Homo sapiens: one gene and its partners. The protein of the gene in region 2 purifies or fractionates together with the protein of the main gene of each other region. This does not show direct contact. Each region holds a gene or a part of one and is shown on either strand. Other genes may lie near its edges.

Region 1 (8,279 bases), on a different chromosome or scaffold from region 2:
GAATTCAAATAAAAATAAATCCCTTGAAGCTAAAAGCTCTAGGAACACTTTTAAAAACATTAAGCCAGCTGGGCGCAGTGGCTCACGCCTATAATCCCAGAACTTTGGGAGGCCAAGGTAGGAGGATCACCTGAGGTCAGGAGACTAGCCTGACCAACATGGAGAAACCCCGTCTCTACTAAAAATACAAAATTAGCCAGACATGGTGGTGCATGACTGTAATCCCAGCTACTTGGGAGGCTGAGGCAGAAGAATCGCTTGAACCCTGGAGGTGGAGGTTGCGGTGAGCTGAGATTGCACCATTGCACTCCAGCCTGGGCAACAAGAGCGAAACCCTGTCTCAAAACAAAAACAAAAACAAAACAAAACAACAAAAAACCCACAACAATTAAGCCACAGAGTACAATGCAATCTGCACTAGATTAGGGTATGTGCTTAGCAGCTACCAACTAAAAAAACAGATTTTCTCCAAAGTTTAAAAAGACCCTGTGATCCCAGAATGGAACCACTGTTTTCTCCCTTCTTTGAGAGGTAGAGTTCATTACAGTGCCTACCAAAGAAAATGCTCAAAAAGTATAACTGTGAGGTACCATTACCTGGCAGTTAGGAGACCGGAGATCCCAGAGTCGAATGGTCTTATCAAGAGACCCAGAAATGAAAGTGTCATCCACAGGTGACATGGACAAGGCCACCACCCTGCAATACATCGAGATAAATAGGAGTTGATGCGAAATATTAGCAAAAATTGGATGTGAATTCTAAACCACTCTGCCTATCTATACATATATATACCTGTTCTCCCAAAATTGCCATTTTAAGAAACACAATAAAACACACATACCACAACCATATCTGGAACAAACAAAGGCAACTAGTATAAAAAAAAAAATTTAAAGCTACAAAATAAAAATATATGATTCCAATGCAAATCAAAACCACAATGAAATACTACTCCACACCCTCTAGCATAGCTATAATAAGAGAGATAACAAGTGTTGGTGAGGATGCAGAGAAATTGGAACCCTCATACATTGCTAATGGAAATGTAAAAATGGTACAGTTGCTTTGGAAAAGTTTTTCCAAAAAAAGTTACCACGTGACCCAGAAACTCCACTCCTAGGTATTTACCCAAGATAACTGAAAATATATGTCCACACAAAAATGTACACATATGTTCAGATCTGCACTATTCATAACAGCCAAAAAGTAGAAATAACCCAAATGGTCCATTAACTAATGGATGGACAAACAAAATGTGCTGTATCTATACACTGGAACATTATTTGGCAATAAAAAGTAATAAAGTACTGCCTCATGTGACAACATGGAGGAACCTTGGGAACACCATGCTAAGTAAAAGAAGCCAGGCACAAAAGATCAGATATGAACTGATCCATTTACACAAAATGTCTAGAATAGGCAAATCTATAAAGACAGAAGTAGATCAGCAGTTGGTAGGGGCTGAGGGAGTGATTACTAATGGGTACAGAGTTTCTCTTTGGAGTGATAAAAATGTTCTGAAGTTAGATGATGGTGATAGTTGTCCAACTTTGCAAATATAGTAAAAACCACTGAACTGTACATTTTTAAAGGAATCATTTACAGTATGTAGACTGTATCTCAATTAAAAAAACACAAAAAAGCATGATTCCTTATCAAGATGTGTGAGGACTACACAGATATTCTCAAACCTAAGTGGCATCAGCATCACCTGGAGGGTGGGTTAAAACAGACTGCTAGGATCTGCTCCCAGAGCCTCTAATCCAGTAGGCCTGACTTGGGGTCTGTGAATCTGAGTTTCTAACTAGCCCCCAGGTGATGGGTGAGGCTGCTGTTTTGGGCACCACACCTAGAGAACCACAAGCCTATGCTAACAGCAACTGTATTCCTTTTTTGGTTCCCTTTTGTGGTTATACCATCAAGAGACACTCACTGAAAAACATTTTCTTCCAATGTAACTCAACTAACATCTGCACCAGCTCCTCAAGTTAAAATTTTAAAAGGTATTGTTAAAAGCCAAAATTTCCTGAGAATGCTGAGGAGGTAATAAAACACAATGAGCAGGCCAGGTGCGGTGGCTCATGCCTGTAATCCCAGCACTTTGGGAGGCCCAGGTGGGCGATCACCTGAGGTCAGGAGTTTGAGACCAGCTTGGCCAACATGGTGAAATCCCACCACTAATAAAAATACAAAAATTAGCCAGGCCTGGTGGCGTACACCTGTAATCCCAGCTACTCAAGAGGCTGAGGCGGAAGAATCGCTTGAACCCCAGAGATGGAGGCTGCAGTGAGCCAAGATCACACCACTGCATTCCAGCCTGGGAAACAGAGCAAGGCACCGTCTCAAAAAACAAAAATCAGAATGAGCAGAACACGTTGTGGACATGTAATTTTATGCCATGGCATTCAGCCCAAGAGCTCAGCACAAGACTCTATGCTGAGAAGTACAGGGAACACATGGAGAAGTAAGACCCCGACCGTAAGGAATTTTAACTGTCCAGTCCACATGACTCCAAGAGGACCAGAGAAGGCTTCTGGAAAGATACAACATCTGAGGTAGAAAGGATTTCAAAGAAGTAGCCCAGAGTTCACCTTAATGGGAATGGTGGGAGAAAATGCTGAGAAAATGGGTCAGAGCCAGAAGGGACAGAACCTGACTACAAGGGGAAGGAGCAATGAAAATATAGAGAACCATTAAGAGAGATTGTGAAGCAATCAAACTGCAATCCAGGAAGCTGAAACAGGATGGTAAGAGATGGGAAGATTAATTAGGAGCTAACAATAATTTACCTCACAGGGCATGAGCCAGGGCAGAAGCAAAGGAGAGAACACAGAGGAAAGTGACACATGAGGTTAAACCTAGGGAGAACTAAATAGTTTAACAACTCACTGAATATGATGGCAGGGGAAAAAGAGTGAACTAACAACAGATGCTTTGAGCCAGAATTGGAAGAGACAGAGATGAATAAATATGAGGAAGACAGAGAGAAGCTGGCCCAAAAAAGGTAACAATGATGGACAGAGTACTGGACCTGAGTATTAGAAAGAGTATTGGACAGAAGAGACAGCTACAAAGATGTGTATAAAACATGTAGGTGGTGCTGGGTGCAGTGGCTCATGCCTGTAATCCCAGCACTTTGGGAGGCTGAGGCGGATGGATCACCTGAGGTCAGGAGTTTGACAGCGGCCTGGCCAACATGGTGAAACCCTGTCTCTATAAAAACACAAAAATTAGCCGGGCATGATGGTGCGTGCCTGTAATCCCAGCTATTCGGGAGGCTGAGGCAGGAGAATCGTTTGAACTCAGGAGGTGGAGGTTGCAGTGAGCCAAGATCATGCCATTGCACTCCAGCCTGGGTGACCCGGTGAGCCTCCATCTCAAAAAACAAAAAAACAAACAAAACCTGTAGGTGGAAGGCGGGTCTGAAACTGATAATAGACATGAGCTAAAAATACTGATTTGGGAAGCCACCTGAATGGAGGTAAATGAAATCAGCGATGGAGATAAGAAAGCGGATAAAATATTTGTTTATTTTAGAGTCAAAACAGAGGCTGAAAACTACAAGAACAGAACCGACATGGGAAAAGTCACCTGCCACGGGAAAGTAAGTTTTACTGAGAGGTTAAGCACCAAGAAAAGCCCAAACCAGTGGCTTTTTAACTAGAGGCAGCAGGGAATGAAGGATAAAGGTTTGGATAAAGCCCCATAGACGATTCTGGGACTAGTGCAAAAATGATTTCAACAGTGAACATGTGTGAGGAGGTGGAGATGGGAATGTACAGATTCTTCTTTCAAGTTTGATAGTGAAAAGGAGTGGGTGATAGGGTCAATAAGTAGATTTAAGATAAGAAAGACCAAGTAAATTTGTAGGCAACAAAGGAAAGGCCAATTAAGGAGATGGAAGCAAGCAGAAAGAGGAAGGTCTGTTTTGTGAAAGAAAGACAACAGCTTTCTCAAGGAAAGGATTCCAAGGAAGACAGAATTTAGGTGGAAGGGATAGATGTTTAAAAGAACTCTTTTTTTTGGAGACACGGTCTTGCTTTGTCACCCAGGCTGGAGTACAGTGGCACAATCATGGCTCACTGCAGCCTCAACCTCCCAGACTCAAGCGATCCTCTCACCTCAGCCTCCCAAAGTGCTGATAACAGGCCTTAACCACCACACCCAGCTGAAATAACTCATTTTGTATAGCCTTGATTTTCTCATAAAAGGAGGGACAAAGTCATCTATCAAGAATCAGGAGGTCGGCCAGCCGGGTGCGGTGGCTCACGTCTGTAATCCCAGCACTTTGGGAGGCTGAGGCGGGCGGATCAGGGACCATCCTGGGTAACACGGTAAAACCCCATCTCTACTAAAAATACAAAAAACTAGCGGGGCTTGGTGGCGGGTGCCTGTGGTCCCAGCTACTCAGGAGGCTGAGGCAGGAGAATGGCGTGAACCCAAGAGGCGGAGCCTGCAGTGAGCCAACATTGCACCACTGCACTCCAGCCTGGGCGACAGAGCGAGACTCTGTCTCAAAAAAAAAAAAAAAAAAAAAAAAAAAAAAAAAAAAGAATCAGGAGGTCAAGAGGTTGAATAATTGGGAAGACTGGAAAGCACGTCAAACAACTGCATCAACTCTTAATTACAAATAGTACATTTGTGAACATTAATTTGAATAAAAACAAGCAAAACATCTACTTATCATGAGCCATCCTTTGTCTGAAACCAGTTACCACTGGTTGCCACCTTATTTCACCTTTATTTCAGCAACACAAATGGCCTGCCCAACTGGAAGTGCAACTTTTTTTTTTTTTTTTTTTTTTTGAGACAGGGTCTTGCTCTGTCACCCAGGCTGGATGGAGTGCAGTGGCGCCACCTTGGCTCAATGCAGCCTCTGTCTCGCGGGTTCAAGCAATTCTCGTGCCTGAGCCTCCGAAGTAGTAGGAATTACAGGCGCACACCACCACTCCTGGCTAATTTTTGTATTTTTTGTAGAGACAGGGTTTCACCATGTTGCCTAGCCTGGTTTTGAACTCCTGCACTCAAGCAATCTGTCCTCCTCAGCCTTCCAAAGAGCTGGGATTACAGGCATTAAGCCACCACGCCTGGCCTGGAAGTGCAATTTCTAACAGGAGGCTCTCAGGCCATCTCCTGTCAGGGCTCCATACCAATCGAAACCATCCTGGGTTACTGTACATTTGCAAATGGATGCAGGAAAAAATACCCCAAGTGATTAAAATATTATCCAGGGGAAAACGTGTTTAACATTCAAAGAAAAGTTGAAAAATTAGAGAAAAAAGTAACTAGGGGCATTGGGGTGAAGAACAGAGAGAAGCAACCTGCATTACAATACAGAAAAAGGAGATAAACTTCTTGATTTTAAAAAAAGGACTTTCTTTTGCATTCTCATTAAGATCTTTAAATGGAACATTTTTACATAGGGGCCCACTGAAATGGGGGCCACATATATTGGAAGGCCTCATAAACACAAACAGTCCTTTATTAAGGGATATGTGAGATTTGGTATTCCTAAATGCCAAATCTAATTTTTACTACATAAGTTTTCACTGAATATCTTTAATCCACATTTTTTCTAGTTTTATATGTATATATAAAACTAGAAATATATATATCTAACTAGAAATAGATATACCTATAACTAGAAAAAATATATATACATATATATCTTTGAGACGGAGTCTCACTCTGTCGCCCAAGCTGGAGTGCAGTGGCGCGATCTCGGCTCATTGCAACCTCTGCCTCCTGGGTTCAAGCGATTCTCCTGCCTCAGCCTCCCGAGTAGCTGGGATTGCAGGTGTCCACCACCATACCTGGCTAATTTTTGTATTTTTAGTAGAGATGGGGTTTTGACACGTTGGCCTGGCTGGTTTCAAACTCCCGGCCTCAAGTGATCCGCCCGCCGCGGCCTCCCAAAGTGCTGGGATTACAGGTGTGAGCCACTGCACTGGGCCTAGTTATATTTTAACTGAGGTATCTCTGAACACCTACCTCTGCACCTCTATAACCTCAGTAAATCAAGAGTTGACTATTTAAGAGAAGATGAAGAATGCCAAGCAGTAGTGAGGAAGTAGCTTCAGTTCACTAATAAGCTCTCTCTAGCCTTCTATTCTCTGGGTAACCTCAGGGATAAAAGAACTATCTGCTTCTATAATACGTGGGTCTTACCTTTTGCTATGTCCAGGAAAGTATCTGATGTATTTGTTGTCATGCAAGGACAAGTAACGAATAGTATCTGTAAAAAGACAAACAAGGTATGATGATATCATACTATTTAAAAGAAATTTACTTTACATTTTCATCTTAAAAAGACAAGGTCAAATAATCCATTGTATTCTATATCCCAAGCAAGGCATGAATAAATAATGGTGAATAATTCTACTCTGCAGCTGAAGAGTGGGTATGTAGATTTCACCTAACTCAAAAGCAGAGTTCTTAAGTTGACAGCATAGAAAGCAATGTTTGAAATGACCTTTTATTACCAATTTGGTTTCTTCATAATTACAATGCAACTCCCACCCTGCAAATATACCCTGGTCAAAAAACAAAAACAAGTAAAGCACACATAATAATTTTAGATACTGGTCTAGTGTCCACAGAATGGCAAACCTTAAAGAAAAATATGTGGCTGTTGAGCTAACAGACTTAAAGAGGTGAGCAGCCATGGCAGTTAAACTGAAGATCAGGTTGAACCCTGGCAGCAATTTTTGTCTAGAGTTCTCCATCAGTATGTTGACCCACCCTCAACTCATTTGAACATTCTTCAATTGGACACACAAATTACAATGAAAATAAACAAAACGTCAGAGAAGTGATGTCAAGATCTGGGTTAAAAAGATCTTAAGACATTAAAAAAATCAAATTCTTATACCAATGAGTAATAGCAGTGAGATTTTGACAATATTAAAGAAAGGAACAATCAGAGATTTGTGCTTGTGGAAAAATAAGACACTCTTAACCAAATGATTCTATCTGAAAGAGTAAACAAACAAAAAACATGGTGGCGGTAGAGAAATGAAGTGCCATAAAGAATAAAACTGCAAAATAGAAAAGTATTATCCCCTTAAAAAGACTAGGAATAAGGAAAAATTGTTGAGAAACAGCTAAGGGAAAATGGTACCAAAATGCAGAAAGAAAACCATAGAAAGAACATTCTGAAGGCAAACAGAACATAGGAATAAAGGGGTTGAAAGCATCGAGTCATCCCAGGGGTTCACAGGGGTGCTTTCTAATAAGAGGGCATTTAACTTGGGAGGGGGAATAGGGGAATAGGGATATTTGTATATTCCATAACTTGAACACTACACAATTTTCCTTGAAAACATCTTCAAACTTCTTGAATGACAACTACGAAGTATTTCTAGTTATTCTACTGCTAACAATGACTCACCTGCCCTAAGAAGAAAAAGACTTCCTCCCCATTACCTGGTTTCCCAGAGATGAGCAGGGTGACGCCATCCTCTCAGCCCCACTTGGCAGCTGGCGCGCTGTTCCTGGCAAGGCAGTGGCCTGTACAGTTATCTCCTGTACCGGGTGGTATCATAGACCCTCAAACTGTACAAACTACTACCTCAGCCTGGAATCAGGCAAAAGGAAACGGAGCGCTGGAGGAACTCTTCAGGATGCACTTGAGACAGGAAAGGGAACATCCTCACAGCAGAGGCTTGGCAGCAAAGCTACAAGTGCCACACATTTGCCTCATCTTGCACCACATTTGGAGAATCCTCATTTAATCACTCAGAAAAACATCCCAACAGAAGAAATAAACCAGTCATTCGGATGATCACATAGACATGTTTCCTCAGGATCCTAAGGTTTTACATTCTTTTCCAAAATCATTAACTACACTGCTTCCTTAGAAAACCACTTCTGAAATACAGGCATGAAAAGTAGAAATGACATACTTAACTAAAAATCAATACAGGCAGAAGAGTCTCATTAAAAAAAAAAAAAAATGGAAAAAAGGACTTCCGCCCATTCTGCTCTGAGATAGGCACAGCCAAAATAGCAGTATAAGCTATCCTTGTGGAATGACATTAGAAAAATCTTTTTTGTTTTTTTGAGATGGAGCCTCGCTCTGTCACCCAGGTTGGAGTGCAGTGGTGTGATCACCCTAGACCTCCAGGGCTCAAGCAATCCTCCCACCTCAGCCTTACAAGTGGCTGGGACTACAGGCGCGTCCCATCACACCTGGCTAATTTTTGTATTTTTTGTAGAGACGGGGTTTTCCCAAGTTGCCCAGGCTAATCTCGAACTTCTGTGCTCAAGTGATCCACTCT
Region 2 (8,279 bases):
TTACAGGTATAATCTCTAAAATGGTCATACCATTTCTACTTTTGCCTCTTTCAGTCTATCCACAGAGTACCAAAGAGGACCTAGTCAAAAACAAAGTTAGATCACATCACTCCTCTGTTCAAAATCCCCCTACGGTTTCCTGGATACTCAGAATAAAATCCAGTATCCTTATAAGGCTGATCATGATTTAGCCATCCTGTTTCCAGCTGGAGCACATTTCTCTCTCTTCTCACTCCTTGCCTGTCCTGTTCTGCCATGCTTGCCACCTTGATTCTCCTCAAATGTGCACAGCACAATCCTACCTTAGGGTCCATTGCTCCGTGCTGCTCCCTAGACCTGGAACAATCTTATCACAAATAGCTTCAAGGCTCACTCCTGTAACTCTCATCCAAATGCTATCTTTCAGAGAAGCCTTCCCTGCCCTTCTGATTTATAACTGCAACTCTCCTACCACCAATCTCTAGTATTCTGCTGTTCCCTTTCTATTAGTGCTTTTTTCCATAGCACTAATCACAACCATCATCTAATGTTATATATGTATTGCTTATTTGTTTACTATCTATTTACCTACACCAAGTAGAGACATCTCAGTATATTTTCTTTATTGATGTATTCCCAGAGCCTTGAGTAGGAAATGAACCTAGTAGGTACTCAGTATTTCTCTAAGAATGAATAAAGTACTAATCACTTTAGATCAGGGTCCCACCAAGGATATTAATTCAAGAATAAACTTAAAAATCTTAGAAAAAGAACTTATTTCAGTTTTATCAATAATATAAGACTAACCGACAATCAGCCAAATATTTCTCTTTTTAAGTCAAATATTTCTCATAGTAAATTAATAAAAGTACAAGCAATTTGGCTATACATATTGAGAGCATTTTCTTAAAACTTACTCTTTGGCCCTTCAGTTTCACCTCAGCGAGTACCCATATCATGGAAACAATCCAAAATATGGGAAATACTATGCACATAAACATTCAGAAGTAAAAACTTAGAAATTAAATGTCTAACGAATGTGCTAACGTTGAATACATTATGACCCATTTCCTTGACAAAAATAATGTGCATGCAATTCATTACTCTGTTTCAAAAACTTTAGTGGATCAACTTTGCCTTCAAGATAAATTTGGCCTCTCCCTCAGCCTCTTATTTCACCCTCCCCTCTTCATAACCTATCTTCTAGGCACACTTCACCAGCCCTCTCCTCCCCTAAACTCTAGCTTCTGGAAGACTCTGACATCTTGGTTATGTGCTCTCGTAGGTACTCTGATAGAACTTTCCCACCAAAGTCACACTTCACAGTCATTATGGTAAATACTTATTCACTGGTCTTTTTCTCCCACTAAAGCAAATACCTAACACCTAGTTTAGTGCCTGATCTTAAGTAGGCAGTTTATGCAGAAATGAACTAAGTAATATTACATAAATGTGCTTATGATGCCACTGTAAATTAATGGTGCATTTTGGGTGATTTATATGATCTATTTTCTTCCTTTGTAAATTTGCTAAGTTATCTATGTCGGTAGAGACTGTACAAAGGGAACAAAGATATACTCATGTATGTACATAATGAATCACAATGTAGTAACATTGTAGTGCCACAAAATTCTTATAAAACCAGTTCCCCAAACACTTCTCTCTTCTTCTCTCAAAGTGTATAAAACCCAGTAAAAACATTTATGTGAAAAGCCAACAAGGAAGCTAGTCCTCCTATTACCTGAGTGGAGTTAGATAGTTGGTTTTTCCACGGCTCCTCTGCGCTGCTGGTCAGGTTTGTGCGGTTATGAGGTAGAGTGAGTGCGTTTCGCTGCAGGTAAGGCACGTTTCCATTACTTCCACTTCCTGTTATATGATTATTGCCTATCAAAATAGTGTCTGTACTTCCCAGCGTTCTTGATGTGCTACAGGGAACATGGCCTGCAGAAAAGGGTCCATTGGCCAAAGGCTGCCCAGGGCAGGCAGGACGGACTCCAGGCTGAGAGACGCTAGGCACTCTGGTCAGAGCAAGCTGTGGCTGCTGGCCAGAGACTGAGTTTGTAGGCAGTGATGAGTCAGCTGTTGGCCCATTAGGAATTCCAGTAGATCGTACCTGTGCAACTCCTGTTGGTCTCATCTGTCAAAAAAACAAAGGAAAAGTAAATGCTGGTTGTGTAATCTATAGGGAAGAGAATCTATAGGGGATTCTCTATGAATCCCCAGATGAATATGAAGATGTATAATTAGGGAATGTGTGATTTTACCCAAATGCTTAATTTCTCTAAGTTGAGAAATACATACTTTAAAAACAAGAAATTGTATTTGTTCATTTTAAAATAAACTTCCTTGAAAAAGCAAAAGTCGGTTTCAAAAAAAAAAAATCCCATTAGTAATGACAAAAGGAAGCAGCTGAAAATTATAGAAAACGACCCCGAACTTATAGGTCCTTCTCTCAATCACAAAAGAGGGGACATCTCAAAATTTCATTCTGTTACATATATGCCAGATCCTGTAAACTAAATAAGCCCTAAAAACCTTGCCTCAGTACTAAATAATGTAAACAAACCCTTAGAATACATGTGAAATATCATGTAAATAAATAAAATACAAAGTATCTTCTTCAAAATTATAGTTGCTTTTGTCTAAAAATCTCCGTCAATTACCAGTATTTTAAAATACAGAGATTACTAAATTCTGTCAAATACCAGTAGAAAGTAAAAATGAACATAAACATGCTCTAAAATGACATTAGAGTCAATAAAAATACTCAAAATGCTAACAAATTTCAGGGAAAAATATGCTATACACACTTGGTGTTGTTGCATTAAGACAAACTGACTTTCCAGCTGTTCCAGCATCAGTTTCTGTGCTGGATTTAAATTATTTCTATTTGCGCGGAGCTGTTCCAAATGCTAGAAGAAGAACAAAAAGAGAATATAGTCAAAGATATATTTAGGAAATAAGATCATTATTCTAAGCAACCTTTCCCTGAAATGACTAAACTCAGAACCACTATCTGGTCAAACACACTGTCTTCTGACCAACAGTCACACACTCCAAGATGAAGTCCTTTAATAAGCTTGAGAAATATAAGAATGAACTAAGCATTCATCTGAACAAGATTTACTATGAGTTCTTTGTAATAGATGGGCATGAAATTTTACTCATCCATACAGTATTCTTAGGTATTCACAGAGAAAACTCTTGAAGCTTAAAAATATATTGACAAGTATGCTAAAAGCAGCACTGTCTGGAATAAGCAAAGTCTGAAGACAACCTGAATGTCCAAAATTACTGATCTGCTTAAATAAAGGTGTTACATCTATATAAAGAAATATGATGTAACCATAAAAGAACAAGGAAGCTCTTCACATATTGACATGCAGAAGTCTGTAAAATATGTTGTTAACAGCAAATAAGAATCCTATCATTTGTGTAAAAAAGAAGAAAAATAATAATACATGTGAGAAAGGGGGGGATGTATATTTGCTTGTACATACATAACATACCTCTGGAATGATAGATAGGAAATTAGTAATACCAGCCACATTTTGAGTGGGTAGGGGCCAGAGTTAGAAGAAAACTTTACCCTATATACCCTATATTTATACTTTATGTAGTGTAAACCATGTCCTGTTTAAAAAAAAAAAAAGAAATTAAAAACAAGAATGAATGCTCTTCATTATTCTGGTAAATGCAGGCTCATTTTACTTTTGTGCATTTTAATTGAATGTACTGCCATTTAACTTATAAGAATTAATACTTAGGGCTGGGTGCAGTGGCTCACACCTGTAATCTCAGCACTTTGGGAGGCTGAGGTAGGTGGATCACTTGAGGTCAGGAGTGCAAGACCAGTCTGGCCAACATGGCGAAACCCAGTCTCTACCAAAAATATAAAAATTAGCGGGGTGTGATGGTGCGTGCCTGTAATCCCAGCTACTCTGGAGGCTGAGGCACAAGAATAACTTTAACACAGGACGCGGAGGTTGCAGTGAGCCAAGAGCGTGCCACTATACTCCAGCCTGGGTGACAGAGCAAGACTCTATCTCAAAAAAAAAAAAAAAAAAAAAAAAAATTAATACTTGTTTGCTACCTCTACTCCTTTTTAATAAACAATTTGTCAAAAACATCTTACATACCTGTAATTTCTGTGGTGTCAAACACCATGAATGAGCTTGTTGCTGTACTGGAGGATGTGACACAGCATGTCCACCACTCCAATTGTCAGAAGTATTCTGAGGAAAATCGATTTAAAAAAAAAATTAAAGAATATTTGGTTAAATCCACAGTTAATAATAATGGTTAGAGGAGGCCAAATGACTATGAATTGGAATATTTACATGTTAAAAAGATGTTATAACATTAAATTCTTTAAAAAATAATTTTACATGCATATTAAACTTAGAAATCATACATTTAAAAATTACTGACTATTTAATAAGCCACCCAAAAAGGCCCACCCTCAAACTATGGCCCAAACGGCTAGCCTAAACACCACACTGTCCACTAGATCCAACATTAAATTTATTTCAATGTCAGTAAAAAGTGATGATGAAAAGTGTGCTGGGATCTTAACGGCAGGGAGATGAATAAAATGATTTGATGAATGCAAATTTATCCCTACTTTCTATATTTAATATGATACTAAGGGTTTGGGATGGAAAAACTCAAACCTTTCACTCTTTGATGTCCACAAATTTAAAATAAAGGACAGGAAATGTTCAAACTGCACAATTTCAGGGCAGCTGAAACTTCTTTTTTGACTGGGATTTTCTATTTCTCTAAAACATATACCTTTGTTGGACTAGATGTTCTTTTCCTCTTGGCAGGACTGGACAGGTCATCTACTTGGCTAGAAGGAATCATGTGTAGTGGCAAGGATTGCTGTGAAATTGGTGTTTGACTGAGGCCTAATACAGGTTCAGTATTTGGATGATGAGGTTTACATGCCTAAGAATCACAGAAGGAAGACAAAAATAGGGTTCTATATATTCTTAATTCATTCCTTCAAATTATAAAACTTTACAAGCTGCATACTTTTCAAAGCTATGTGGACATCGCTGATTGCAATGATTGAAAATCAAAATTAAATGATTCATCAATGGAATAATGTGTACCTTCCTTTGAAAAACTTGCCTTAAAAATTAAACAAACCACTGTAGCATTATTTTAAGAAATCTCCTTCAAAATCATGAAAATGCACAAAGGTTCTAAGTTGGTACCCCAAAATCTCTTCCCATATTAGAGGGAATTTTATTTTGATCTAGATTCCCTTTGCAATTAAATCAAAAGGCTTTTCATTACTAAAAGCCTCCTGTGCTTAGTAAATTAAGCTTGACCACTAGAGAATTGAAAAGAACCCTTAAAGCTGGGCACCTGCAGAACATAACCCAACTTCTCACCTGCTGTGCTGTGTTCATGGCACCCTGCCTGGAGGTAAGCTCTGCGGGAATTGGTAGGCTCCACGCCTCCTCAATACTAGGAAGTAATTTAGTTTTATTCTGTAGACTACCTTGTGGAAGGTTACACAACTGAGCCTAGGAAAAATTATGTAAAAAGCAAATTTAACACAAGCCTACTTGAGTAAGAGCAAGTCCACTAAATCTTCCTAAATGCTATAGCTAATTGTTTTTAAAAGAAAATAGATTCTAAATTTGGGGCTTTAGAAGACACTAAGTATAAACAGGGTAACCGGAATATAAACCTTTGTGAGAATCAAAACAAAGCTGAGCTCTGTTTTCAGAGTTCTCATAGCTGTCTTCTCAAGAAACTCCAAGCAAGAGTGAAAGACTGTTTGTGTTTTCTATAAAATGCTATGACAACTTAAAAATGTAGACAGTACATAGAAAAAAATTATGTAAATTAATATGCATCAACAGAGTAAATGTGCAAAAGAGCATCTTTAAAAATACTGCATATCTTACTTAAAATGAAAAGTAAAATAATATTACAAGCTATGGTATGTTTACAAAATATGGAAACAGATTATAGACATCAAAACACAACTAGACAAACTTTCCAGCCACCCTCCTTCTGCCTGAGTGTTCTGGGGAAATATGTGGCTTTAAAAAACTGCCATTTAAAAATTTTACCTGTAAATACTTAATTCGTGCTGCAAGTGCAGAGGTATTACTACAACTTTTGCTTCTAGTTGCATTTAAGTAGCATTTAATGGCATCCTGAGGCTGGTTGCAGGATTCATAGAGAGTGCCTAGGTCCATCCAGGCTGCAGCATGGCCATGGTCCAATTGTACAGCACAAATATAGGCCTGTAAAGCATCCATGGGCTGATTTTGCTGCTGATATAGCACACTGGAAAGAGAAATTAAGAAAAAATAAGTCAACTCAGAAGAACTGCTTGGTTTTATAATGATTTAAACTATGAAGTACTATATGTGATGCAACCATCTTTGTATATCAATTAAATTACTACTATTTTTATACAAAGGCTTACCCTATTGAACACCATGTATCTGCACTTGCTTCTGATTTATCAATAGACTGCCTGTAAGATATAAAGGCATCCTGAACTTTCCCAATACTTGAATAGCACCTGAGAAGGGAAGGGAAAAAAAAAAAAAATCAAGAGAATTCCATTAATACTGAAACAAATTAATCGGCTGAAAGGATGGACTATATATCACAGCAAATTTTTTTAAAACCCTAATAAGTTAATATATTTATGTGTATGTATGTATATACTTGTTAACTATAATGAATATTATAATTTGCCCTCCAACAAACCATATTATAGTCTGTCTTATAGGTGCTAAAAAGCATGCTGCATTAATGAACTCTATTAAAATGATTAGGGGACATATCACTTCAATATTATAATACTGAGAGCTGCATGCACATGTGCACACACACACACACGGCACTCTTCCACTCTTCTTATACAGCTTGACCTCTAGTTTCCTATATGGTCAAAATACAGAGTTAAAAACAAAAACACTATATACGTTGGTAAGATTTGCTGTATCAGATTTCAATTTTCCTTTCCCAAGTAACAACACTGAGGGCAATAATTCTTTAATTCATAAAAAAAATGCACATGTAAGACATAGTTAATCTCAAACTAAGTATCAAAAATAGTATAAAGTAAAAAGTAAAAATAATATAAAGTATAATATTTTATGACTAGTAAAGTTAGCAAGGTAAGATTAACGATTCAAGGACTGTAATTTTCTTAATGTGAATATACACGATGGACATGATGGATACACAGATAACAGTTGAAATTATAAATACTGAAATTATCTTCTTATTCTTGGCACTAAAGGAAAAAGAAAAAAAACAAAAACCCAGTCCCTATTTTCATGAAGCTTACAATTTAGTTGAGGACTGAAGATACATTAAAAATGTCATGATGTCATATCAAATGGCCAGTATAGACAATAATTGGCCTGAGAATTTAGGATAAGAAGAGACCATCATATTCTGCAAGATTTAGGAAAGGCAAAAAAAAAAAGGGGGGGGGGGGAGAGTAAGAGTAAGGGATTTGAATATGTAAAGATGCATATTATTTAGTGATTCCTAATTGCCAGCCAGTATATGGCACGTTTGCCAAGCAAACAAATTGGAAAGACAACACACACATATACATACATAAAGTTTTTCCAATAAATGAATTAATATTTATGCTGTAATTCTCTTATTTTGGATATTATTGGCTGACAGTAAATTGCAAAAAAAGTTAATGTTTTTACTTGCCCAAACACCATATTTCTATCCTCATAATTATTCTTTGAAATTTTACTGATTTATGTAACCTAAAATTCTAGGAACCACTGATTCGGGCAGAGAAGATGAGAAAAGGCGTTTTAAATGGGTTTGAACAGCATGAGCAAAACCTAATGTATATACAAGAAAGCACAGACACAAAACAGTAGAGAATTTTAAATCCAGCCAAAGATTACCCTAAAGTTTGCTTTTCTAACAAGCAGAATAGCACACTGAAAGCACTTTATAGGAATATTAATTTTCTAACAATATGTAGGGCAGACTGAAAGGAAAATAGTTATGGACAGTGAAAAAAGAGGGTGGCTACATTCACTGGTTTAGAACAGGCCAAAATTGGAGTGAAAGTACTGGAAGCGGCAAGAAAAAAAAGATAAGAGAAACAAGAAACCAAAAGATTGATAAAGGCTTTGTGATTAATTGATTAGATGTTCACAGGGTGGGGGCTGTAACTTAGTATTTAACCTTGATAAAAAGAAAATGGTGATCTTTTGGCAAAAGTAAAAGGAGAAAAGAGCTGGTCTGGGGAAGAATATGGTGAACATGGTTTGAAATATGCT
Region 3 (8,279 bases), on a different chromosome or scaffold from region 2:
TAACAACCCTTAGAGGGCATAATTTCAAAAATTCAGATATTGAAATAACCCCTACTGTCTTCTTTAATGCGTAATTTCTGTTTTTCTCCTAAGAGAGAAAAGACAAACTCTGTAACTCCAACTTCCAACTGTCCTCTTATCTATTCCTTGTAACTTTCTTTTTCTGATTCAAAACCGGTTTGGGAACATTTTATTTTAGAACTGAATTTATAATTGCTTTAATCACTCAGTGTCTTAACTGAAAAAAATCTTAGATAACATGAACAATTCTAAAGGTATTTAAAAGAGCACAGACCTAAATACTTTGACTTGAGTAATCAGGAAATCCAATCTTCCAAATCTTTTTAAGATGTTTTACATTTACCATCCTTGAGACTAATGCTCTTAAACTGGTTCTTACACTAATTTCTTAAATTGGTATAGCATTTTGTATCTGATCATATCGAGCTGATGCCATGACAACTTAAATAGTGTTGTTCATTCCTAGACAAGGGCTTTCCATTTTCTGTATGTTTTTTCTAAAAACTAGTAATGATTTCATGAATGTCTAGATGCCCAGTAGAAACAAGCAGCCACTCCACCTACCTGCTCATCACCATTGGTGGCATGCCCAGATTGTTTTGTGCCATCACTTTATTTATACCTTTAAGGGCCACCATTTTGGCTTTCATTATAGGATCTGTAATTGCATCAAAATCTAGAAAAGAAATATAAAGTTACTTATTTCATAGTAATTAGTTCAACGTACACTAAGAAGTAATTCAAATATTACAAGCTCTTAAATTTTATTATTTAATAATCATTACAGATTTCTGAGATGGCAACCTTATCCTGGGTTTAATCGCATCTCAGTAGTCCTTAACTGAATCATGCTTTAATACCTTAGTCCTGCAGGAATTAAAACAAAAAGTCAAGTTTAAGGGAGATTATAAGCAATAATCTAAAGCAATGCAATTAATTTCCTTTCATCCAAACTTTTGCAATGCTAATCAGAATGGCTTCTTTAGTAAATATAACATCACAAATAAGAATTTGCAATACTAAGGAATTCTACTAAATTAGTTATCACTCTTAAAAGAAAAATGCACCAATTTCTTAAGGGTATAACCTCTCAATAAGAAGCTACTACGAAAAAACCTATTTGCATCTAAATGAAAAAAAGGGAGCAAAATGATGAAATTGGGGATATATAAAATGGAATGTCAATTTTATTATTTAGAATAAGGCACACTGCTTAGACACGTGCCCTTTGATTGCTAATTCTTATTCTTAGAGGCACTGAGGCATTTTGACTGCATTGCTTTTGTTGTTTTTAGAATCAGTAAACCATTAGAAACAAGTTAAAGAGGTTTATATAGCAAAAAATCGCCAAGCATTTGTCATACACAAAAGGACAGTAAGAAGCTTTATTTCCATCATAATTTTCTTAAATTCATCCTTCCATGACTGAAAACATATGGCAACAATGGTTGGAATGTAGGAACTAAGAAGACAATTAGTTTCTATTAAACAATTCCATAAATAATAGAATTGAGGGAAGTTTGTAACTCAGTTTTGAATCTCTTAATTTACCTGGAAAGAATCTAAAACTCTTCGTTGTTTTCATTTTTTTTTTTTTGAGACAGAGTCTCACTCTGTCCCCCAGGCTGGAGTGCAATGGTGCGATCTCGCCTCACTGCAACTTCCGCCTCCTGGGTTCACACCATTCTCCTGCCTCTGTCTCCCGAATAACTGGGACTACAGGCGCACGCTGCTATGCCCAGCTAATTTTTTGTTATTTTTTTTTAATTATTATACTTTAAATTCTGGGATACTTGTGCAGAATATGCTGGTTACATAGGTATACATATGTCATGGTGGTTTGCTGCACCCATCAACCCGTCATCTACATTAGGTATTTCTCCTAATGCTATCCGTCCCCTAGCCCCCCACCCCCGACAGGTTCCAGTGTGTGATGTTCCCCTCCCTGTGTCCATGTGTTCTCACTGTTCAACTCCCACTTATGAGTGAGAACATGCAGTGTATGGTTTTCTGTTCCTGCATTAGTTTGCTGAGAATGATGGTTTCCAGCTTCATCCATGTCCTGTGTTGCCCAGGTTGGTCTGGAACTCCTGAGCTGAGGCAATCTGTCTGCCTCGGTCTCCCAAAGTGCTAGGATTACAGCCGTGAGCCACTGTGCCCAGCCAACTGCTTTCATTCTAAAGCTCAAGGAGGGCCAAGCAGGGTGGCTCACGCCTGTAATCCCAGCACTTTGGGAGGCCAAAGCAGGCGGATCACCTGAGGTCAGGAGTTTGAGACCAGCCTGGCCAACATGGTGAAACCCCGCACCTCTACTAAAAATACAAAAATTGGCCAGGCATGGTGGCACGTGTCTGTAGTCCCAGCTACTCGGGAGGCTGAGGCAGGAGAATCACTTGAACCCAGGAGGTGGAGGTTGCTGTGAGCCGAGATCGCGCCACTGCACTCCATCTTGGGTGACACAGTGAGACTCCGTCTCAAAACAAAACAAACAAACTCCTCAAGGAGGAATAGAAAAACTCAGTGCTTTATTCCAACTGTAATTCTAATAATAAAATCTTATAAGCATATCGCATGCCACTCTAATACCCATAGTAATATACGTTGAGACTCAAGAAAACTCCTACCAATATTAGGGAAGAACGGTTCTGATCGCTGACGAATCATGGCTTGCATCTGTCTTTGCTGCTGCTGTTCTTGCCTTTCTTGATCCAAAAGATCCTGTAGAAGTAGAGGCTGTTCTTCTAGAAGAAGGGGCCTCTCTCTATTCTGCTGTGCTAATGTTTGAGGAATCATTAGCTGTTGGGGTCCAGACATGCTACTGGTACCAGACTGACTTGTTTGAGGCCCAGTTTGAGTTGCAGGTTTTCCTGTCCCCAGACTGTGGTTAACTGTTGATTGACCTGGAATGAGCCCTGGGTTTACCTGCACACCCTGAGAAAAAACATGGTTTACCCTAGAGACTACTGTCACATTAGAATTCATGGCATTATCCAAAACACGGCCAGGCGGTGCTATGAAAGGAGGCAAACTTGACACATGATTGGATGGGGAGGCCGGCAGAGTTGGTGGTGGTGGAGACCCCGATGGCCTAATGTCTGAATTATCAGATTTCTCATTAGCAAGTAAACTTGAGAGAACTGGAGTTGATCCAGTTATGCCACAAGAGTTTATTACATCTTGAGCAGGTAGTTGAGTGGATGCCTGAATGACATTTGCACTGGGGCCAGCAGTTTCTCGATTGGTTCTTTTCTCAAATAGATCTGGATCACAAGGATGCAAAGAAGTCTTTTCTCCATCATTTAGGTCTGAGTGAGCAGAAGCCTGTGAGCAAGGAGTGTCAACATTATCTTTATTCTCATCATTTTTTTCAGTTTCACATTTGGATTCCACCTTAGAATTTGGAGACAGTACTTCCGTTTTTACCTCATTGGTAACAGTGGATTTTTTCTGTGGTGAATGTTTATCAGAGAGAACCAGAGTTTTGTTTTCTTGTTCCTTTTTTTTTGGTTCAACAGATACACACTGATTATCTAACTTATCATCAATTGGAAGGTCTAGTTCCTCATTAAACATGCTTTTCTTATCTCCCATGTCAAGTTCTGGATCTGTATATGCAATGATATCAAACTCTCCTGACCTTAAGAGGTCATCCAGGTTGGGATCATTAGTTTCCAAATTATCTAAAGTATCCAATTCAACTACCTTGCCATCCTCTGTATCTAAATTTAAGTTTTCAAGATCTTCATCATCTAAGTCTTTGACTTCAACCCCCTCAAGGTCTTTAACATCCAGTTCCTTCACAGAAGGGTCATCAGAATCAAGTTTTTCCTCTAGACCATCAGAAGGCTGGGTGGTTATCTGTAAATTATCAGACGTTGTTTCAGACGGTACAGATGTTGACAAAGGAGCTTCTGAAAATTCACCACCTAGTGGATGGTTCAGAGTCCTCATGACCATAGAAGATGAATGGACAGAATGACCTTGCTCTTGTTGAGATGGTGGCACTTGTTCCAAATCTGGGTGCACAGGTAGCTGATTAGGTAGACCCTGGGGAGGTCGTCGCATGGGGTCTGTGTGTCTAGGGCCCGGAAAGTCTGGCCGGGGAATGAAGTTTCCATGTCTCAGATTAGAAGATGCCTCTACAACGCTGCCAGGTGGAGCACTGAAAGGCAGCCGTTGCCTTCCGTCAGGAGCCCTATGTCTCAGTTCAATATATGCTTGGCCCAGTATGTTGTGCTGCTGAACTGGCAAGCTCTGTGGTGAAAAATGCTGAGGAAGTCCAACTGGATTATTCATTTGTGAGTTATTTAAAGGCCTAGGCATATCTACAGATACTGATCTTCTTAGCTGTGGAGAAACTCCAGATCCCTGTATTTGCTGAGGAGGCACAAGGAAGCGCTCTTGACTCGGCATGGTACCATGACTACCTCCTGGAAATCCAAATCTTTTAAAAAAAAAAAAAAAAAAAAAAAAAAAGCAAATAGGTATTATGTTAAATTTAGAGTTAAGTTGAAAAAAAGAAAAGTCTTCAATTAAACTGTACATACAAAATGTTGCCAAATACTATGACTTACAAAAGCAAAGCTATCACCATTAAAAAGTATTTACAGTATTCATATGCAAGTAAGATTTTGCTAAGAATCCTATAATGAACACCATATCTGAGCTCTAAAGGCTTAAGATTTAACAGATAACAAAAATGAAGACAAAGGAAGAACAACCAAGCAGATGAAATCAATTGTTCAGAGATAAGAACAATACTACTGGACTTTTTCAGGAAGAGTTTCTTTTATCTATATTTAGGGAGGTTCGATGGAGGAAGCTGATTCGGGGATGATGTTTGAATGAAGATAGGTCTTCATACCTATTGAGGGACTTACAGGCCTCAGTACATGAGACTACAAAGGCACAGGTTTGATGATGGGATAGAATAAACTTAGAGAAAAGGACAAGTAGGCCTCATCTATAAAGATTAAGTAAATGTATAAATTGTTGGACTATTTTATATTGTACTTCCTTCTAGACAGGATTACAGGCAACTTACACAGAATACAAAGCATAGCAAGAGGCATAAATTATAACAAGGTGGAAGAAAAAAGGGAAATTAAGAGTAAGATTACAGGCAACTTACACAAAATATAAAATGCAGAAAGAGGCATAAATTACAACTAAGGTAGAAGAAAAGGAAACTAAAAGAATATAACATGGAGGTAGAGATATAAGACTAAAAGACATAAAACTAAAAAGCATATCTTAAAGAACTATTTCCTTATTATAACTAGGGCATAGGTTTGGCTTTGACTTTAGCCACTTTGAAAAAGGAAACATTCTTATGATTCATCACCACTAACTTACAACCCTATCTCACCATGGAAAGTTCCTAAAGGGAAAGTCCTTTCAGTTCGGAAATCTCTAAAATTTATTATTATTATTTTTTAAATTGAGACAGAGTCTCGTTCTGTCTCCCAGGCTGGAGTGCAGTGGCGTGACCTCGGCTCACTGCAACCTCCACCTCCTGGGTTCAAGTGATCCTTTTGTCTCAGCCTCCTGAGTAGCCGCGAATACAGGTGCAGTGCCTGCCGCCATAGCCGGCCAATTTTTGTATTTTTACTAGAGGCAGGGTTTTACCATGTTGGCCAGGTTGGTCTCGAACTCCTGACCTCAAGTGATCCGCCCACCTCGGCCTCCCAAAGTATTGGGATTACAGGCCTGAGCCACTGCGCCCAGCCTAAAATTAATTTAGAATGTAAAGTTAAAAGGTAGAAATTTGGAGAGAGGACAAGTCTCATCACATCGTAGGAGGCTTTGCCTACGCAGAATAGCTACATTTTGAGGATGTCATATGATAAACTGCATCATTAAGGGTGCAAGGTAATGCTAACACAGTTAATACTTAAAAACAAAGGTAATGTTTTCAGAGTCTGTAGAGTTCTTAGAGGAAAAAAATGTCTATGACCTCTCATTAGCACTAAATAGCAGATTATATATATTTCAAAGGGGAGAAAGAAGTAGAAAGCAGTAACAGCTTCCTGATTAATACTAACTTCATTTGTCTATTTCTTTTAAAAAATTTTTAAATTTGTTGAAGAGGTTGGGGGGGGGGGGGGGTGGTCTCACTATATTGCCCAGGCTGGTCTCAAACTCCTAGCCTCAAGCAATCCTCCTGCCTCAGCTAGTAGCTAGGATTACAGGCACAAGCCACCACACCCAGCTCTGTTTCCCTCTTCTAATAGCAATTTAAATTCGGCAGGAAATTAAAAGCATTACCTAAATCCATGAGGTCTCATCCCCATACTAGCAACATCAGGAGGATAGGGTCCACGCTGATCTTTTGGGAAAACAGCATATCTAGGTCCTAAAGGAGGGGCAACAGGAGACCTAATGTTCCCAGGATAGGGAGGTGGGGGTCTGGTGAAAGCCTGGTTAACATTCTCTGGTTGCCAGTGTTGAAGAGGCCCTGGATGAGGCACTGCGGGTGAGTCCTGTGACCCCTTCTCCTGTCGACCTGCAATCTTCTTCTGCTGTTGCTGCTGGAGAATGATTTCACGTAACTTCTGCCGCTAAATGGGAAGAAACAAAAATCACTGGGATTTGTGGTAATTAATGGCTTTTTAAAGGTTACTGGCTTTTTATTTTTAGATATGGGATCTTGCTATGTTGCCCAGGCTGGCCTCAAATTCCTGGACTCAAGTGATCCTCCTGTCTCAGCCTCTCAAGTAGCTGGGATTACAAGCATGCGCCACCGTGCCTGACAGGTTAGTGGCTTTTTAAATCCTGATACTTTCATTATGTGGCTATGGTAATGTTTCAAAGTTTGATGAAATACCAGTTACATTTAACTATTCAATATATTAGGAAAAATAATTTGATGATTTGGGTCCTTTTCCTTGCCAGACAACTATCACAAAACAAAGCTTTAATATTTAAGGATTCCCCTGCGAATTCGTGAAAACTGAAATCAGATACAGAATAAATTAAACTGGTGTTAATTTCATCAATTTCATTTTTCTTTTTTGCAGTATGACAAACTCTACAGAATAAAAAAAATAAAACATTAACTCCTGTGTAGAAATTACTCAGTTTGATGAAATGAACAGCTTCCTCAAATAATACATTTAAAACTGAGAACATACAATGTGTTTACCTGTCTCAATTTCTCTGTATCTGCTTGGGCCATATTTACAGTATTCTGTGTATCAGTTACTCCTGAAGTTGGCACAGGTCCAGGAAGTTGGGAGACACCAGAGAACTGCTGGCCTTGGGAGTGCATTGGAGAGTTTGAAGATGCACAGAAGCTCCCCTCTGATCCAGGCCTTGGCTGATCAGCAACATCATGGGCAGTTTGACTTGTTCCAAAAGAGTCAGACTGAGATCTTGGAGTCATTGGAGACTGATCATAGGGATCACGGGCAGCAGATGGGGAAACACGGCTAAATGTGTCTGAAAGACCAGGTCCAGGGGGCCTAGGTGTCTGGGAACATGTATCAGGTGGCCTTACCAACGGGCCAGGTAAAGCTGGTCCTCGGTTTTGTGCTGCTTGCAGGAAAGGATCCTGATTTGGCATGAGGACTGGTCTTGTCATTGAGGACCTAGTAAAACCCTCTGAAATCCTTGGCCTTGGTGTTGCTGGTGGCTGAGAGTAAGGGACAGAAATTCCAGGTCTTGGTGTTCCAGGAGGATGAGCATATGGATCAGAATGCCTCTGATTTGTTACAGGTGTAACAAACAAGTCAGTTTGTGTAGATGGTCTTGGGGTTTGGGGCTGCTGACTATATGGGTCAACAGTAGTAGGCCGGGGAGTTCCAGGAGGTTGAGAGTAAGGGTCTGTATTGGACCTAGCTGTTCCTGAAGATTGGGAATAAGAATCTACAACAGGTCGTGGAGTTCCTGGGGGTTGGGAGTATGGGTCCTGAGATGTTGGCCTTGATATGGTTCCAGGCTGGGAAAAAGCCCTTGAAGGATGGGCAAAAGATTCATTCACTGCTGGATGTGGGGTAAGGGGAGGCTGACTATATGGATCATTTGACTGATTATGAGAAAAATTATCTATAGGTCTTGGTGTCAAAGCAGGCCTTTCATAAGGGTCAACAGACAATCGCCTTGATGCCTGTGACACTGATCCATAAGGATCCTGAGAGGATGGAGGAGGTTGCATTGGAGTCTTAAAAGGTCCAGGACCACTATCAAGAGGTGCAGGTGTCAACAAGGGTCGTGCATATGAGTCAGGTATCCTTTGTCTTTGAAACACATCTGCCCTA
Region 4 (5,117 bases), on a different chromosome or scaffold from region 2:
CGCGCCAGGCCTTCTGGAGACCTTTTTTTAAAGCCACCCATCTCCGGTGATTCTATTTAATTGGTCTGGGTGAGGTTCACCCGTTGCTATTGTAAAAAGTTCTCCCTCATTTTTTTTTTTTTTTTCTGAGACGAGTCTCGCTCTGTCACCCAGGCTGGAGTGCAGTGGCACGATCTCGGATCACTGCAGCTCCGCCTCCCGGGTTCATGCCATTCTCCTGCCTCAGCTGGGATTACAGGCACCCACCACCACGCCTAGCTAATTTTTTTTGTATTTTTAGTAGAGATGGGGTTTCACTGTGTTAGCCAGGATGGTCTTGATCTCCTAACCTCGTGATCCGCCTGCCTTGGCCTCCCAAAGTGCTGGGATTACAGGCGTGAGCCACCGCGCCTGGCCTCTGACTCTTAATATATATCCAGGATTGAGAGCCAGTGGGAAAATGTCACTCCAGCAGGTTTTATCACTGCCAGCATGCTCCTGGGCCACTTACTAGCCTCTGAGCCTTCCTCTCCAGTGAAGTGAGAATAAAAGTGACTGTTGACTAGGCTTGGTGGCTCCCACCTGTAATCCCAGCACTTTGGGAGACCAAGATGGGAGGATCACTTGAGGCCAGGAGTTCAAGACCAGCCTGGGCAACATAGGGAGACCCTGTCTCTATAAAAACCATAAAAAATATTAGCTAGGTGTGGTGGTGCACACCTGTGGTCCCTGCTACTTTGGAGGCTGAGGTGGGAGGATCGCCTGTGCCTGGGAGGTCAAGGCTGCAGTGAGCCGTAAATGGAGCACACGAGTGCGCTCTAGCCTGGGCAAGAGTGAGGCCATCTCAAAAAAAAAAAAAAAAAAAAGAAAAGAAAAGAAAAGGAAAAAAAAATGACTGCTCTTCAAGTCAAAGGTATTAGAGACTGGAGGGTCTCTGGTGCACAGTAGGAACTGGGAGGAGGATAAAGATCAGTTTCAGGCCGGGCGCAGTGGCTGTAATCCCAGCACTTTGGGAGGCCAAGGCAGGCGGATTGCCTGAGCTCAGGAGTTCGAGACCAGCCTGGCCAACATGGTGAAACTTCGTCTCTACTAAAAATACAAAAATTAGCCGTACATGGTGGCAGGCAACTGTAGTCTCAGCTACTCGGGAGGCTGAGGCAGGAGAATTGCTTGAACCAGGGATGCAGAGGTTGCAGTGAGTCGAGATTGCGCCATTGTACTCTGGCCTGGGGGACAGAGCGAGACTCTGTCTCAAAAACAAAAACACAGCTCCGATTGCAGGCTGTGAAGGGCAGGGAATTGCACTCATTCTCCTCCAGCCCCTTCCCTTACCCAGGTCCAGGCAGCCTCCTTTGTCCCCAACCCCAGGGCTCTTGCTCCAGGCAGTCCTGAGGTTGGACGTAAGGTCGGTGATGCGGCCCTGCCCCCAGACCTTCCCACAGCTTCAGGTTCAGGAAAAGGCACATGAAGTTTGGTATAAACAAGGACACAACTTCACAGAGTTTCTCACTGATTTAAGTTAAATATTCTAGTCTTTAGAGAATGGGTCACATGACTCAGGAATTGCCAACAGCCTGTTTTCACCCAGCGGCTTCCTGGTTTACCCCCTTTAGGAGATGATTAATGGAAATTGAGAATGTGTCTCATAAATTACTTTTTTTTTTTTTAAAGCAGCACAGTTTTAGGAACTTTTCGAGACAGAACAGCTCAGCCAGCCTAGACTTCCACTTGTCCTCCCTCCTCCCACTCCTGCCAATTAACACCAGTCACCAGAGGCAAGAACCGCCTAGATCAGAAGCGACCCCAGGAACCAGGCTTCAGCACCCCTGATCTTCATCAATATTTTCTCAACTTGCCTAATCATAGGACTGAGCTATAATTCTTTAAAAAAAAAAAAAAAACAAAACCCCAACCACACACACACAAACAGAGACAGGGTCTCGCTATGTTGCTCAGGCTGGTCTGGAACTCCTGGCCTCAAGCCATCCTCCCATTCGGGCCTCCCAAAGTACTGGGATTACAGGCCTGAGCCACCGCATCCAGCCCTAGGCTGGAATTCTTAACCCCACTCCTGCTGCTTTTTGCAGGCCTCACTTCTGACTCACTGGGTCTAAGTTTCCGGGAGAGAGCCTCTGGACCCTGTGTTCTAGGCAAACGCCCCTAAGTAACAGCTCCCACTTCAGATGAGCTTAATCTGTGCCAGGTAGTGTTAAGTGCCCTCAATTAACTCATGTTATCCTCACAAGAACCTGCAAGTTAAGAAATTTGCCCAAGAGCACACAGTTATCAAAGGACGGAGCCGGAAGTCCAACCTGGCTATAACTGTAGAGACCACAAACTAGGAGGCAGTGGCTTCTCAGGCAGAAACACAAAGATTCTAAGCCGAGAACAAGAACTAGAGGACCTGGGTGGGGCTGTGTACTGCCCAGATGGTGCTAATGGCAGTTCAAAGGTGAGTGTTTCCTGTAAGTTGGGCCAGCGCCCAGCCTCTGCTCCCCCAGAACCTGGGAGGGCAGCACCCAAGATAACCTGAGCACCCCGTTACCTTGGAGCCCTGAGGCTGTCTCTGGGCCACCCACTCAAGGTGGCCCCCCTACCTGCTCAAGGCTACATACAGAGGGCTGTCCTGCCCAAACAGCCACACCCGAGGGCCGACCCAGTGCTCTGTGTGCCAAGGGAGTTTCTGGCAGAGCCACCTGATACCCCACGTGACAGCTGGCCTCTCCCCCATCACCCAGGGGCTACCCAGGCAGAGAGCTGAGAACACAGGGGCCATCAGCCTCGCTATCACCTCCACCCCCAAGTGCTTGGCTCCCCAAGGGACAGCTCTAAAATCCCCAGAATCTCAGGCTGGTGGGTCCAGCTGAGCATCCTAGTTTTCACTTTCTCCTCCCAAAAAGGAAAGAACCTTGGTCACTAAATTCTACGCCTTCTGGAAATCACTCTGCTAATGACTTCCTGAATGATCGACTGAGACCAACAGCTGGCCCAGCCCTGCATGGAGGAGTAAGAAACCCTCATCTGTCAGAGTTAAGGGGCCTGAATGGGTACAGGTCACATTCTTGGAGCTCAAGGTGACAGGCCAGAGCCCAGGTCCCCAGGACAGTGCAGGTGAGTAGAGCAAGCACCGATCTAGGGCTAAGATGGGGTCTGAATGACCCTGTAAGGTTCCCCACCTGATTTCCCAGGTGGGACCCTGAAGTCAGAGAGAGGCCTGAGAGTTGCAGGGGGGTGGGGGACCGGTGTTGGTGTTAATCTGCCTTTACTTCAAAACCCAGAAGACTCCCAACTATTGGAAAGTGAAACCTCCAAAAGCAAAGCCACCACCCATCCTCCTTCCCCACTCTGATTCAGACATGTTTTCCCTGCCCCAGCAGAAGCAAGGCCCTTCAAAGCAAGACAGGACTAAAGAGAGCCTCAAGGGATACAAAGATCTGCCCCTGATTTGGGGTTTGGGGGGCTAGTACAATGTACTCACATCTAGAAGTGCAGGTAGCTGCAACAAACGCCTCAGATGGGGAACTCTCACCCTGCCTTGGGGATCACTTCCCGGCAGGGCAAGGCAGGCCAAGCCCAGGGGTGGGGCTTGGGAGTTAAAGGGCCCGTGTGCAGCTGGTTCTCATTTTATCCTCCGGGCTGCTTCTGCTGCAGCTGAAGGCACACTGCTCCCTGAGTGCTCATGGGTTTCTACCTTGGAGCCAGCTGGCTGCACTGGAGTGGGACTGGGAGGAGTTGGAGGGCCCGAGATGGGACAGGTGCTAACTGAGGGCACCTCTACCCATCTGGCTTTCATTTTCCAATCTGGGTGAGTACAATTCTGCCTCTCCCTTCAAGTGGGGCCTAACTGTTGAGCTACAGCTACAGCCCCTCCTTTTAAGAGATGATAGCTCTGCATCTTTTATTTCAGACTCAGAAAATTCAGTCCAGGTCTCTGAATAGGTGTTCAATAGAAAACACACACTCACACACTCTCTCTATATAGATGTTCAATAGAAAACACACACACTCTCTCTATAGGTGTTCAATAGAAAACACACACACACACTCTACAGGTGTTCAATAGAAAAAACACACACACACACTCACACTCTCTCTTCCTCTTTCCCGCAACGTGCTGTTTGGGAGCTTGAGGTTTCTCTCTTCTTCCCAAGTTTCTCAATGTCTGGGCTGGGGAAGGAGGGCCCAGGCTCCAGCAGGTACGGACACTGCACCCTAGAGGCAGGAGCAGTGGGAATCAGTATTTCCGCTGCCGAGGGAAGAGACTACTCCCGGAGGATCGGAGTGGGGGGCTGGCGGGGCTGGGGTCCTCCGAGTCCAGGCTGAAGAGGTCCCTCCCGGTACGAAGGATCTGCTCCTCCAGCTTCTTGTGTCTCTTCATGTCCGACAGCACCTTGTCCAGGCGGGCCTCCCGTTTCTGGCTCCGGGCTGAGCTTCCTGGAGAAGAGGAAGGTAAGATACATGGAAGGGATGGAGGTGGTGTACACCATACCTGCCTGGACCTCACTCATCACTTGGGGAGCTGGTTAAACATGCAGGTCCCCAGGCCTCTGTCTTGGAGGACCTGAGGTTCAGGGTTGGACCTCAGAGAGGGTGAGAAGCAAAGATCTTGATTGACAGGAAGGCACAGGTAATGTGAAGAACAGGGAGGAACATACTGGGCAGGGGAATGGCAAGGGTAGAGGCCCCAGGACAAGAACAGAGTTCTGTTCAAAGAAGAGTGCAGGCCGGGCATGGTGGTTCACGCTTGTAATGCCAGCACTTTGGGAGGCTGAGGTGGGCAACTCACGAGGTCAGGAGTTTGAGACCAGCCTGGCCAACACAAAAAATTAGCTGGGCGTGGTGGTGGGCGCCTGTAATCCCAGCTACTTGGGAGGCTGAGGCAGAAGAATCGCTTGAACCCGGGAGGTGGAGGTTGCAATGAGCCAAGATCGCACTACTGCACTCCAGCCTCGGTGACACAGCTACACTCCGTCTCCCCTACTCGCCAAAAACAAAAACAAAAAAAAGAGTGCAGAGAACTGGAGGTGGCGGGAAAAGCGCTTGGATTCTCCTTTGACATGCTCTTCCCTGGCAAGATGGAATCCCTTGGAAAATTTTAAGTGGAAAAGTGACACGATTTATGGCTGAGTGCAGCAGCT

The links.
Region 1: the proteins of KDM6A (region 2) and WDR82 purify together in Homo sapiens (affinity purification with mass spectrometry; 2 studies listed by BioGRID). This does not show direct contact.
Region 3: the proteins of KDM6A (region 2) and KMT2C purify together in Homo sapiens (affinity purification with mass spectrometry; 3 studies listed by BioGRID and IntAct, with this or other methods). This does not show direct contact.
Region 4: the proteins of KDM6A (region 2) and PAGR1 purify together in Homo sapiens (affinity purification with mass spectrometry; 5 studies listed by BioGRID and IntAct, with this or other methods). This does not show direct contact.

The regions. Positions count from the first base shown.
Region 1 is NC_000003.12:52,260,784-52,269,062, forward strand, and holds part of WDR82 (WD repeat-containing protein 82), read right to left. Parts: intron 7,579-8,279; exon of another isoform or gene 7,495-7,578; intron 6,236-7,494; coding exon 6,169-6,235; intron 697-6,168; coding exon 597-696; intron 1-596. UniProt on the Homo sapiens protein: Regulatory component of the SET1/COMPASS complex implicated in the tethering of this complex to transcriptional start sites of active genes.
Region 2 is NC_000023.11:45,057,259-45,065,537, reverse strand, and holds part of KDM6A (lysine-specific demethylase 6A), read right to left. Parts: intron 6,533-8,279; coding exon 6,434-6,532; intron 6,292-6,433; coding exon 6,072-6,291; intron 5,517-6,071; coding exon 5,382-5,516; intron 4,930-5,381; coding exon 4,774-4,929; intron 4,215-4,773; coding exon 4,119-4,214; intron 2,892-4,118; coding exon 2,790-2,891; intron 2,117-2,789; coding exon 1,721-2,116; intron 1-1,720. UniProt on the Homo sapiens protein: Histone demethylase that specifically demethylates 'Lys-27' of histone H3, thereby playing a central role in histone code. Demethylates trimethylated and dimethylated but not monomethylated H3 'Lys-27'.
Region 3 is NC_000007.14:152,173,546-152,181,824, forward strand, and holds part of KMT2C (histone-lysine N-methyltransferase 2C), read right to left. Parts: coding exon 7,166-8,279; intron 6,582-7,165; coding exon 6,289-6,581; intron 4,466-6,288; coding exon 2,646-4,465; intron 698-2,645; coding exon 586-697; intron 1-585. UniProt on the Homo sapiens protein: Histone methyltransferase that catalyzes methyl group transfer from S-adenosyl-L-methionine to the epsilon-amino group of 'Lys-4' of histone H3 (H3K4).
Region 4 is NC_000016.10:29,818,851-29,823,967, reverse strand, and holds the end of PAGR1 (PAXIP1-associated glutamate-rich protein 1), read right to left. Parts: intron 4,429-5,117; exon of another isoform or gene 4,414-4,428; coding exon 4,214-4,413; 3' UTR 1,479-4,213; downstream 1-1,478. UniProt on the Homo sapiens protein: Its association with the histone methyltransferase MLL2/MLL3 complex is suggesting a role in epigenetic transcriptional activation. However, in association with PAXIP1/PTIP is proposed to function at least in part independently of the MLL2/MLL3 complex.